Regions from separate parts of the Homo sapiens genome. Here regions 1 and 2 are each linked to region 3. Evidence: fine-mapped expression QTL. A gene starts in region 3. Each other region holds a variant in brackets. All regions are shown on one strand. Distances are between the middles of the regions.

Evidence for each region. PIP is the estimated chance that this variant, and not a neighbour inherited with it, causes the effect.
Region 1: its variant is fine-mapped to the expression of PIRAT1 in whole blood (INTERVAL, PIP above 0.99).
Region 2: its variant is fine-mapped to the expression of PIRAT1 in whole blood (INTERVAL, PIP above 0.99).

The regions. Positions count from the first base shown.
Region 1 is chr2:37,826,639-37,830,879 of GRCh38, forward strand. PIRAT1 (PU.1 (SPI1) induced regulator of S100A8 and S100A9 alarmin transcription 1) reads right to left here. Exons shown (of 4, transcript NR_110012.1): 3 at 2,295-2,400; 4 at 1-1,240. Among named protein-coding and RNA genes, the nearest start is that of PIRAT1, 47 kb to the right of the region's middle. The variant A/G (reference allele first, on the strand shown) is at 2,622.
Region 2 is chr2:37,812,994-37,817,234 of GRCh38, forward strand. It overlaps the pseudogene LOC344382. Among named protein-coding and RNA genes, the nearest start is that of PIRAT1, 61 kb to the right of the region's middle. The variant C/CT (reference allele first, on the strand shown) is at 2,408.
Region 3 is chr2:37,873,815-37,878,055 of GRCh38, forward strand. It overlaps PIRAT1 (PU.1 (SPI1) induced regulator of S100A8 and S100A9 alarmin transcription 1), which reads right to left and starts at 2,049. Exons shown (of 4, transcript NR_110012.1): 1 at 1,929-2,049.

The sequences.
Region 1 (4,241 bases), 47 kb before region 3:
AATAAGGTCACATTCACAGGTTCCAGGGATTAGGAGATACATGTATCTTTTGGGGACCACCATTCAGTTCACTACAGCTGAGCAGCTGGGATTTGACTCAAGCAGTCCAGCTCCAGCACGTGGCCTCCGACCATCACGCCATGCTCTCTCATGTGGTTACTTTTCACAGGTGTCAGCAAAATGCCTGCTCAATGATCTGAGATTTTTTTTCACAAATCATCACAGAGCTGAAATGCTCATTTTTCTGTGCTGCTACTCTGTCCATGTTCCAGAAAGGCAGCACATTAAGTCTACACCACATCACGCATCCCCTGACAGATGGAGAGAATATCAGCAAATCAGATTGCTTTCTAAAGAAAACAGAATCCAACTTTGCAAATGTTTAAAGCTTGCATATTTTCAAAATTTCAAGCAAAAGTAGAAAACCTCATTACCTCAGATCACGGTTGACAAAACTACCATTGACAAAGAATTATCCTACATGCAATGAAAACCCAATATAAGACAGTGAGTGATTGTCCAAAACGTGGGTGTTAGGTCACTACCCAGACAACAGCAGAGTTGACGGTTCTACCCTAGCTCTCTTTTGATGAGGGAAAACATTATTTTTAAATGAAGCCTGCCACTTCAGTGTAGAAAACATAAAGATGTGGACAGTCACCATTGTCATTTAAAGGGTGAGCTGTATTTCTTCTGAAGTAAAGTGATGAGTCCAGGCAGTACACTCACTCTATCAGATATGATTTGAAAAGCTGAAAAATAAACCTCTGACAATAAGATTTTAGGACAGAAATGCTGCCAGGGCTCGAAGTACATTTCAGAAGAATAAAAAGAAAGTAAACGATGCCAAAGGCCAGACAAACAAAAGGAAAATTCCTACTTCGTTTGTTCTCATGAAATGCCACAGAAAAATAATCTGTTAGGCAGCTCTTCTGGAGTCCAAGTTCTTGCGCTGTGCTCATCTCTTCTTTCTGTTAAAGCTCGGTGCTTTGCAAGCTGTCGTTAAATTGCTTACACGGATGGACGGGGCCAAGATGGTTTTCAGTCTAAAGCCAGTGAGAGTCTCAAGGCAGATTCTGAAGGCCTTGAACCACCTGAGCCTGGCCAGATGGATTCTTCCTTTCACTGTTGTGACCATTGCTTTGGTGTCAGAACCCTATGGGAGAGCTGAGTCCATGACCAGAATCCTCATGCCTTTCACAACTCCAATTAGCCAAGAGCATGGCACGGAGCAGAGGTGCTGGTGGGAGAAAACAACACATAGGTGAAAAACCTCGGGATTAGGCATTTCAAACAAGAGGCATTCATTTTGCCCGACACCCAGAGTTGCCCCATAAACAAGCCAGAAACTCAACCAGGCGGTGACGGAACAAGGAATGGATGAGTGACAAACTGGGCTGTTGATTCTGTTGTAACTGAGGCTTGACTGTATTAACAAGCATGCAGTGATTAAACAGACCAGCACCAGAATTTTAGCAGCTACCTTGAAGCCTGCTGACTGACACTGTCCCTGGAGCCCCTGTTATAATGAGGTCCTTGTGATAACTTACTCCCTTGGATAGAGTCCAAGACAGGCACGTGCCCTGTGGAATTCCACACTGTAACCAACCATACTTCAGAGAGATTCCAGAATAATGATGGTATTGCTTATTTAGGCTGAAGGTTATCTGCTCCTCCTCCTCCAGATCCCTGCCAGCCAAGGGAAGAGCATCTCATTGGTGTCAGATGACAAGGGTCTTGTTCCCTTTACTGGAATAAGCTTCTTATGTCATACAGACTCTGGAAGTCCTGAAAAGCCATCTGTCTTGGCCTTTACTTTAGGAAAGAAAGTATCATAACCTGCCACAGCAGTGGGGACAGCTGAAGCCGGGGGTTACTATTCGCCCTTGTTACTATTCATGGAGGCTCTTAGGGAAATGACCAAAAAGCTCTTTATGGCTCTTGCAATTAATCCTGAAATTCTGGTTGTCACTTGTGGGTAGAAACATATGGTTTACAAATGGGTTGATGATTATTATTTCAAGGAAAAACTAAAACATTATAATGAGAGTTATAACATAATGGTGGGACAGTATAAATAGGGAGAGAATTTGTAGTGTTTTCTTGTTCGTTTTGTTACATGAATAGACAGCTAGGGGAAAATGGCATTCTATGGGGAACTGATGGGATTTATTTAATATTTATTTAAATAAATTTATTTATTTATTTATTTAGACACCTCTTTTTTCCCGTCTAAGTTATAAACTAATTAAGAGATGGACAAAGAATAAGGTAAAGGAAGGTCAAAATATTACCTTGGGCAGGGTGCAGTGTCTCACACCTGTAATCCCAGCACTTTGGGAGGCCAAGGCAGGAGGATCACTTGAGTTCAGGAGTTTAAAATAGCAACATAAGAAGAATCTGTCTCTCCAAAAAAGAAAAAGAAAAGAAAAAAAGGAGGTGAGGTGGCACATACCTCTAGTCCCAGCTACATGGGAGGCTAGGGTGGGAGGATCACCTAAGCCCAGGAGGTCAAGGCTGCAGTGAGCTGTGATCACACCACTACACTGCAGCCTGGGTGACAGAGTAAGACTGTTCCTCAAAAAAATAAAAATAAAAATAAAAATTACCTCAGTTCGTGA[A/G]AACAGCAAAGATGTGTGGCATGACTAGCTCCATTCCCTGGAATTAGGAAATATCACCACACTTATGATGAATCTTACAAAACTTAAGCCTTCCCACTCAGGGAGGGCCACATAGACATGAGAAAGTAGAGCAGAATGTGGTTGTTTTCCAGGGGAAGCTGGCTTCTAATGAGAAGGGAGGGAGGGAGGGCCTGGGCTTCCTGTGCAGATTCATTTCCCTTGGTTACCAGCAGGTCACTCACCCCACCTCCGTGGGCATTAGCCATGAGGCAAGAAGTAAGAGGAGTTTAGAAAAAAATCCTTGTTTCTGGAAACCAGAGAGGAGGGAGACACGGTTCACTCAATGAGTAGGAACTTCAATGGTTAAATGTGTCTTCTTGTAACAAACATCCATGTAACTATTTGAGGCCAGAATGAATTCTTCCTGGTGTTTCTTTAGGTGATTTCTCCAAGGGAGGCCTGTGGTATGCAGGGGATTTTTACCAAGACCAGCGTTCTCATGAGTCCAGAGGCTCATCTGCCCTTAGAGGATTGGAAGATTTGCATCCGCTTCCACAAGCTGCTAGCCTAATCCTCTAAGGTTCAAATCTGCCAGGGATCCATACCATGAAGGCAGTCCTCCTGAGTTTGCTTTGGAGTCTGACACTTTTCATTATGGACATCAGTGATTGACACCCTGATTGTACTTAGAATCACCCAGAGGGAGCTTTTAAAAAGTATTGGTACCCAGGCCCCTCCTCAAACTGAGAAAACTGAGGACTCTGTGGGTGAGCCTGGACATGGATGGCTTTACCAAGCTCTCCAGATGAGTCTAACGTGCACCCTGGCTTGAGAAGCATGGAGTGGCAGTCACAGAAGCCCAGGTTGGCAGCTGTCTCAGGCAGGAAATGTAGAATGGCAGTTAAAACTGTTAGCCCTGGAGAAGAATCCTGATCCCATTCCTTACTGAGTGTTTGTTAAGTTACTTAAACATTCTTAGTCTCCCCAGGGTGACCAAGGCCATCCGTAAAAGGAAATCCACTCCAGTAAGTGAGTTGAAGCCTTGGTCTTCATCATTTATGATGGTCAACGGAGAAGTTTCCTTTTGTTTGATGCCACCCTTCGTGTCTGTTGCAAATGGCAATGAGCCAGAACTCTGCCATGCAGATGCTCGGGTTATGCCCATGCCAGAGAGTCCAGTGTGGCTCAGGATCAATCAAAACAGAAAGTACCATCCTAAAGTCAGCGTCTGGATTTTCCCCGTCAAAACATTCAACTCCCATGGTATATATATTTTTGCTTATTCAATTCATATTTTGAATTCATATTATGAATTAGTCGAATTTTTAGATATGCTTAGTTGTTGGTCCATGTCACAGCTATCTAGCCTGTAAGGACCATTTCTTCTTGCTCTTATCTTGAGAAAATCACACACTGGTGCTTAGTTAATAAATAGTTCTTGATTATGGAAATAATTATGGCCTTGGAAGAATTCTGTTTATATAAGCAAGAACTCTTAGGTCTTAATCTTGCAACTGAAAGGGATCATAGAGACCCAGGTCTTCAAGTTGAAGGGAAACTTGCCGAGGGCCACACAGGCACTCAGAGGCAGGCCCAGATTTGACTGTTCTCTCTCCAAGT
Region 2 (4,241 bases), 61 kb before region 3:
TCAAGGTGGTTCTGAGTGTGAATCCCGGCCACTGATGTATTACCTTGAGTTCAAGATGTAATAGGACCAAGGCCCAGCCAGCACTGAGGCACAGGACATGAGAGTGCATTTCAGGTCTGTGAGGCTGCAGACAAAGCAGTGCATCCTATTGCAGAGCTGGCTCACCCTGAGGTGTGACTGTGTGAAAACTAAAAGCCATGAGCCAATCATTGTAGGTCAGGCCATGGAGGGTGTTATGTCCACTAAGCTGAACCTATGGAGCGTCATGGTGCCCTGAATACTGCTGTGAAAGCATCCTGCGCCACCAGCACCTGGGATCACTGCCAGAGAAGAGGCCTCTGCCGCCATGCTCTTTGGCAGCAGTTCCAGTGTGGAGCTTTGCCTCCCATTCCCCCTACCTCCCACTGGCATCATCCCTCTATTGCCCATGCCTACTAGATGACTTACTTCGGAACCTCCTCTAGTCCCGCCATCCTGTGCTGGGGCTGAGTGATGGAATTAGAAGTGCTTTAATGAGAAGAGACCTGGATGCAACTCTGGTTCTGAAGAATTCCAGCACTGGGGCAAGATGGTGCGCTTGTACCTAAGGATGCTGGAGAAACAGGGAACTGGACTCTGCCTGCTTCTGTGCCTTGGGCTCAGCCTTCCCCAGGCACCGTCTACTCAGCCATCAGTACCCCTCTGTTGTGAGGAGTGTCTGAGATCGGCCTGCACTGGACATTTGCAAGCATCTGGATCCCTGGACTGCTAATAGAAAGAGGTTGGTCTTTTGAAGAAGGTTCAATTTGACTTCTGGACTCATGGCTATTTTCAGAAAGTGTGTTTTCTGGAACTTCATTCTAGGGATTAAAGGAGACAAATTACCTCAGTTTTAAAACCTGCTTAATTAATGTGCTCTAAATCTGGAAATGATTCAAATGTTTGTCAGTTGGTGATTGGAAAAACAAACCGTGGGAAAACCATACAATGAAATACTTACCAATATAAAGGAATGAACTATTTTTATTATATGTAATAGCATGAATAAATCTCAAAATAATGCTGAGTGAAGAAGTCAGATGAAAAAGGGGCCATACTGCATGATTCCAATCATATAAAAATTTAGAAAATACAGCCCATAGTGACAGAAAGCATGTGAGTGGTTGTCTGAGGTTGAGGGTATGGGTCAGGGAGAGGTGAAAGGGAAGGATCAAAAAGGGTCGTCAGAAAACCTTTGGGGTGACTGATATGTGCATTTTTGATTGTGGTGATGGTTTCATTGGTATGTACATATGTAAAATCATCAAATTGTACGTGTTGAACATATGTAATCTATTGTACATCAATAACATGTCAATAAACCTGCAAAAAAGATAATATATACAAGATACTTAGCAGTGTGCCTGGCATGCAGTCTGTGCTTGATAAATAGGAGTTATGTTGCTGTTTTCACACTCGGCTTCACTGTCACCTACTTTAGTGAGAACAGGAGCTAAAGACATGGAGACCCCGATCCTATGATGTGTCTCAAATGGACTCTGCCCAAAAGCTGAGGGAGGCTCTGTGTGCATCAGAACTAGAGCCAGTACGGAAAGAGATTCAGAAATTGGTTTAGGAACCCCTTCCAACCAAAGTGACACTTCCCAAAAAAACATGTTATAATATCAGTGTTATAGGAGAAAAACCTTCTTGAAATATATTTCCGATAATGCCTGTAATTCTGAAAGCACATTTTGGCCTGCTTTCTCACCTTGTCCAGACTGAAGAATTGTTTCAGTTTAGTATCAATCAGCCCCTTGATTCTAAAATGCCATTGCCCAGGTATAGACAGCTCACCCCATGGCATGAGGACTCTTCCTCGTGGATTTCTGCAACCCTGGGCTCTAGGTTTGGTTGGGTACTGCGATCAAGCTTCCCCCACAGTCTTAGTTCATCTCTGCTGTGTTCAACAAACATTCATTTCAAGGAATATCCACTCTCCTTCATAAATGTTGAAAATTTCATAATCTCCCCTGGCCATCCTGTCATTGCTCATATGTGAATTAGGTGATTGCTTCTTTGGAGGGTTTGAGAGAGTCCAGGAAGACCACCTTGATATGACAAAATTCCCACTGCACCCCAAGTGATTCCTTTTCCAATTAAATATTAACTTAAAAAAACACAAGCATGCCTTAGGTAAAGGAGGTAAATAGTGAGTAAATAGTTTATTTCTAGAGAGGAAAAAAGGAAGAATAATAATGTTGGATCAAAGGATAAAACATCAACAAGGGGGAATTTTTCTGAAAGATAAGTCTCACCAACTTTACCATTTGGGGGCCAGTGCCTTCCACTCCCTTTCAAAGGCCTAGCATTGGTAGCCTTTGCATTTGTGTCAGCAAAACCCAGAGAGGGTGTTTCAGCATGCTCTGAGGATCAGGCACCCAACACT[C/CT]TTTTTTTTTTTTTTTTTTTGAGACGGAGTCTGGCTCTTTCGCCCAGGCTGGAGTGCAGTGGCGCAATCTCGGCTCACTGCAAGCTCCGCCTCCCAGGTTCACGCCATTCTCCTGCCTCAGCCTCCCGAGTAGCTGGGACTACAGGCGCCCGCCACTATGCCCGGCTAATTTTTTGTATTTTTAGTGGAAATGGGGTTTCACCATGTTAGCCAGGATGGTCTCAATCTCCTGACCTCGTGATCCGCCCGCCTCGGCCTTCCAAAGTGCTGGGATTACAGGCGTGGGCCACCGCGCCCGGCCCAACACTCTTAAGAAAAATCTGTTGTCAAAGCCCTGTATAAAAAGGGAAATTTCAGCTGCTATTTTAATTAGGTGAAAGCCAATTTGAGACTTCAATAATTTGACACTTTCTGATTTTCTTGGCCCCTGACTTCAGTCTCTTGGTTACTGGACAAACTATGTTTGGTTGGTTGGTTTGGTTTTTTGTTGTTTTGTTACTTTTCTGAGCCTCTATCTATCTGCCCTCTAATCACACAAGAGCTGTAGTATTTAATGTAGTTTCATACAGAAGTATCATAAAACTGATCAGAGAAGGTGTAGTTATAAAAACTGAAACCTGAAACAGTGAGGAGTCCTATGCCTGGGTTCATGGCGTCAGGCCAGAGAGATGGGAGTCCGCTGGCTTCTCGGCCTCTGATGGCAATGTTGCTTTTTCTTCTAGGCCAGGCGCCTGACTCAGGAACTTCACCTACAACTGCATGTCACACTTGGAATCAGTGCCTATTCAGACTCCAGGAAGTCTTAGATGAGGATGAGGGATTGACCTGTCTCCAGGAGGGGCCATACCACATACACCTCTGTCCGCGGCTTCTGGTGATTCAGGAAGCCAGAGGTCAGGGAAGGGAGTGTATACAGGAGAAGTGGCCCCGAAGCCTGCGTTAGTCAGGTGATTGATGGCTGACCCTGGGCAAAAGGGTGAAGCCAGCAAAATGCAGCTTTTATTCTACAAACATTCATTGAGCAACTATTGTACACCAAGCGCTATAATAATCTGTGGGAAAATATTGGCAAACAGGAAACAAGAACTTACTGTTCAGTGGGAGATAGAGACTTAATTCAAATATCAGACTCTAAGCAATGGGTCTCCCTGCCATGAGGGCCCCCCTTCTCCCTGTGATCAGACTTCTGAGCGCATTTTTGTTCTTTACGGATAGCGTCCTGTTTCTCCCAAATCCTTTTTTCTCTGGCATCCCTGTTCCCGCAGTACTTTAAAATATTCAGTTTCTCCCTTTCCCTCCCTGGTCGACTGTTACTTGCCCATGTCAGACTCCCTGACCCCTCCGTCACCCCTTCCTAACCTCAGTGCCACCAGATTGTCCTCCTTTTCCTGTTTTGCAGCCCAGCCCTAGTGTCAGGGCGGGGGCCTGGAGGAGCCCAAGGTGCTGCAGCAGAAGAGAGAAAAGAGAACGACAACACTCAGCTCGCCAGTCTGGTCGCTGGGTTCACTGCCACCATGGCAATGAGACAGACGCTGCTCACCTACTTTGGCCACACGTGGCCCATGGTTGATTTGGCCTTCAGTGGCATCACGACTTATGGGTATTTCTTAACCAGCGCTTACAAAGATGGTAAACCTATGCTACGCCAGGGAGATACAGGAGACTGGATTGGAACATTTTGGGGTCATAAAGGTGCTGTTTGGGGTGCAACACTGAATGCCACCAAAGCAGCAACAGCAGCTGCAGATTTCACAGCCAAAGTGTGGGATGCTGTCTTAGGAGATGAATTGATGACCTTGGCTCATAAATACATTGTCAAGACTGTGTATTTCAT
Region 3 (4,241 bases):
TACCCAGAATCTGAACCTCCATCCTATGTTTGAGATTCCCTACCTCATGGAATCTGGTGGATAAGCAGAGCCCATGGTCCATTACATAGAATTTGAAAATGCCTGATAGTGGTTTTATCAGCCTCTCTTGTAGAAGGAGCCAAGGCCTGTGGCCAAGGCTCCACCAGCCAGACACACTGGCCCACAATTTGAGTTAGGAACCAATGACTCAAGGACAAAGAGACTGAGAAAGCCCTCATAGGAGATGGCAGCAGCTGCAGAAAGATGGGGATTCCAAGGGTGCTGGTGACAGCGGGTTCCAGCAGTGTTAGTATCTGGGACGGTAGCATTGGTGACATAACCAGTGGCAGCTGGGGCAGCAGAGATCCCACCAATTCGTGCAATGCGTGCACTCTTCTTGGCTATAAACCACTAAGCCTTCCCAAACATTCCTGGAGCTGTCAAAGTCTACACATAAATCCTTCTTCTACTTAAACCCGCCAGAGTTCCTTGTGCCCTCATCTAAGAGCTGAACACAAGTAGTAACAAGTGCTCAATCAAAAGGAAAGCCAGACGAAGGCATGGAGAGTGATGAGAGGCTACCTTAGGTAGGTGGCCAAACTCAGCCTCTCCATGGATATGGCTTTTAAGTCTCTCCAGAAAGCCCGAGAGCAAGGCCACCTGAAGACCTGAGGGAAAGAACTCCAGAGAGAGGACACAGTGCAAAGGCTGGGCAGTGACAAGCTGGGGGGCTGAGGAATACCAAGAAGGCCAGTGTAGCCTGAGCTGAGACAGAAGCTAAGTCAGAAGGACAAGCCAGGGCCACAGTTGGTGAGGCTGGTTAGATTGTCGTGTGGAGTTTGAGTGTCATGCTGCGTGTGAGGGAAGCCCCAGCTGGTTTTAAGCAAGGTGACACGGTCTGGTAGTTGAAAAGATCACCCCGGCTGCTGTCAGAAGAATAGTCTGTAGCAAGACAGGAGTGGAAGCAGAAAGATCAGAGACTCTTGCAGAGGTTCAGGAGCCAGGTAGTATGGGTCTGATCCCTCTAGGCCGAGGGCGTTTGAGTGGCGGTGGTGGGAAGAAGAAAGATGAGGAGTAGATTTTGAAGGTAGAGCTGAGAAGCCTTGCTGTGTGTTAGATGAAGGGTGTGAAGGAAAGAGACAGTTCGGGACCGAGCCGCTCTCTGAGATGGGGAAGATGAAGAGAAAGGCAAGCTGGTGGGTGGAGAAGTCAGGATCAAGAGTTTGGCTTTAGATCTAGTGAGTGGGAAACACCAATGAGGTGGAGTGGAGACAGAGTCTGCAGGGGGATGTAAGGACCTGGATGAGGTGGGGGCGAGCTGGGCGCTGGAACTAAGTGTGTGGGATTCCTCGGCACGGGGAGGAAATGTACAGCCATGAAGCTCAATATGCTCACTCAGACGAGAGTGTGGTTCGAGAAGGGGGCTCAGGACAGAGCGCTGGGGAACCAGGGATGAAGAGATCACAGCGAGGAAGAGAATCCAGCTAGGGAACTGCAGGGCGGGAGGAAGAACACAGACTACGGCGTCCTGGAAGCCAAGAAAAGAAAACAGGGGCCTTGGCAATGACCCTAGGCACTTCCAGAGGATGCTTGTATCAAGCAGGTAAGGGGACTGGGGCTCCCAGAGGATGGGCCACCCCGTTTCAGTGCATGGCCCGGCGCCTCTTTAGAAGAGGAAGCCCCTGGATTCCAGAACGTGCTGGCTCCACCCAAGGCAGACGGCAGTGAGGCCACACACTATTCCCAGCCCCTTTCTCTCTGAAAAGAGCCCTTTGTAACTTCTTTGAGAAGGAAACACCTCCGTCAGGGGAGGAACATTATTTGCTTCCTGTTAGAACAGACTTTTACTTAGGATCAAGCTCGGTGTCAGCCCCATCCCCACAGGGAGCAATAAGGGAAAGAGGAGGGAGGGGGCCGCAGACACTCACTTGTGGGGGCTGGTTTCGCAGGAACGGCTCCGGAGAGCTTGAAGAGGGGTAGGCTGCAGGCCCACAGCCGCAGTCTCTCTCAGCTAGAAACCCTCCTCCCTCCTCTGCCAGCCTGTCCTCCCCGGGCTCCGTTCGAAAGGCCTGGGAGATAGGGAGAAGGCTGGTCAGCCTGGGCGGTTAGTGGCTGGTTTAACACTTCCTTGCCTGCCAGCCCTTTCCCAGGAAGACTACAGCCAATCATTCATTCATTCAAAAGCTCTTTGCCAAGCACCTACTCTGTGCTAGGTCTGTGCCCAGCATGGGGACACAGTATTAGGCAAAAAAAAAAAAAACAAAAACCAGACATCCCCCATCTGCCCTGAACTTACAGTCTAGTGGGATAAATTAAACAAGGCACGCAAACACCTCTACAGCCACAAATGTGATAAGGCTCTAAGTGAATATCGCACATGACAGTGGCCCTGCTGAAGGCCAGGCAGAGGTTCCTTCTTGAGGAAGGACGTCTCTGAATCTCCAGAAGCCAATAGAATCTGTAGCAGCAGAAGAAAGGGTCAGGTTTCTAGAACTGCCCACTACGACTTTAGAAGCTGACGCATCTCTGTTATGCCGCGGCTGCGATGTTTTAAGTCCCCAAAGCCCAGAGCACATCGTGGAGCATGGAAGTGGTTCACTGAGAAGCTGAATCTAGTCCTGGGGCTGCTGGTGTGGAGGGTGTGTTCCGCTCTTGGGGCAGCAGCAACAGGTGCCGTGAGAGGCTCAGAGCTTTTGAAGCAGAAATGGCAATACTCTACATCTTCAGCAAATATTTGGGAGTCTTTTGTTAAAAGAAGAGCAGAATAAATATCTATGCCTCTTGTAAAACCCAAAGGAAAGCTCTCAGATAGGCTTCTTTAGGGCTATGACTATCTCTGCAGCTTCACTATACTGAGTTAAGTCTGTAGAGCATCTGTAACCCTAGGCATGTGTGTCCACAACCTCCACACGTACACAAGGACACTCCTACAGAGGACAGGCCGTGCGGACAGTTAGGGGAGGACAGTGGAGGCCGCTTCAGTTCACTTCGGTGCTTTGGATTCAAGTGTTTTTCTGTTTCATTTTCTGGGTAGCTGATTATTAAGCTAAACACTCCTTTGATGGTTGAAAATACATTAGTCCCTTTTCTTGCACGAATCTAATTCACCAAAGCCTATTAAAGTGCTTTTGGACCAATGAGGAAATTTAATGCTCAAGTATTTTATTCTGAATTCCAATTTTCCTTGTGTTATGATTTTACCTATAGGTGGTTGGGTTGATTGTATGGTAAAGATGAAAAAAAGCATATTTGGAAAGAACATGACAATTCTCAAGGTGTTTATACTACTTTACTGTATTTGATCCTTGCAACTGCCATGTGAATTAGGCAAGAAATATTTCAGTTTTACAAATGAGAAAACTTCTGTCCTGAGACATTAAGTGATATACTCAAAGGTCATATAATAATTTGTTTTGTTTTTATCTTGACTACCATACTCCTCTATACCACCTTCAGGACTCTGGAAGTCAGATATATGTGAGTTTTTTGTCAACTAAATTCATAGTTGTCTTAATATTCATCCCTTGCTAAAATTAAGGTGCAGAAATAAAATCTGTCTAATAGAGAAATATAAATCCATCTTTTGTCTGGATAATCAAATTTTACTATATTTTGTTTTAATCCTGAGAATGAAATTTTACAAATAGCTCAGGAGGTTTTCCCTAGAGTTCCAAATAAAAGTGTGTGGATCATATACACGTTCTGCTTAATCACATGACGGTTCCAAATTTTTAATTTCAATCCTTCATTACGATGAAAATTTTTGCGTTTTTTTTCCACCAGCTCTTTGTTTTGTTTTTCAATGGCTCAGGAAAGGAGAGGGGTGTGGGAGACTCTGTCTCTTTTGACAATCACCAGCGCCATCTACTGTCAAGAAATAAAATCGTGACTCATTGTTAACGCGTCAATGAACATTAGGGCTTAAAGAGGGAAAGACAATTTTATACCCCAGTACTTACTGATAAATATAAGTTCATGTACACATATTTTTATCTTATATTATTGTATTCTTAAGCAGCCTATAGGGAGAATACAATGAACTTAATATATAATTATTTATGTAATTCTTAAGAGCACTAACTTTGGAAGAGGATAAAAATGGGGTGAATTTCAGCTAAACCACTTAATAGCTACGTGATTTCTCTTACCCTCAGTCTTTTCATCTGCAAAATATGAACAATTATACTTAGAAGGTTGTTTTCTTGATTAAATGACATATGTAAAATTTACCCCAAAGCTAG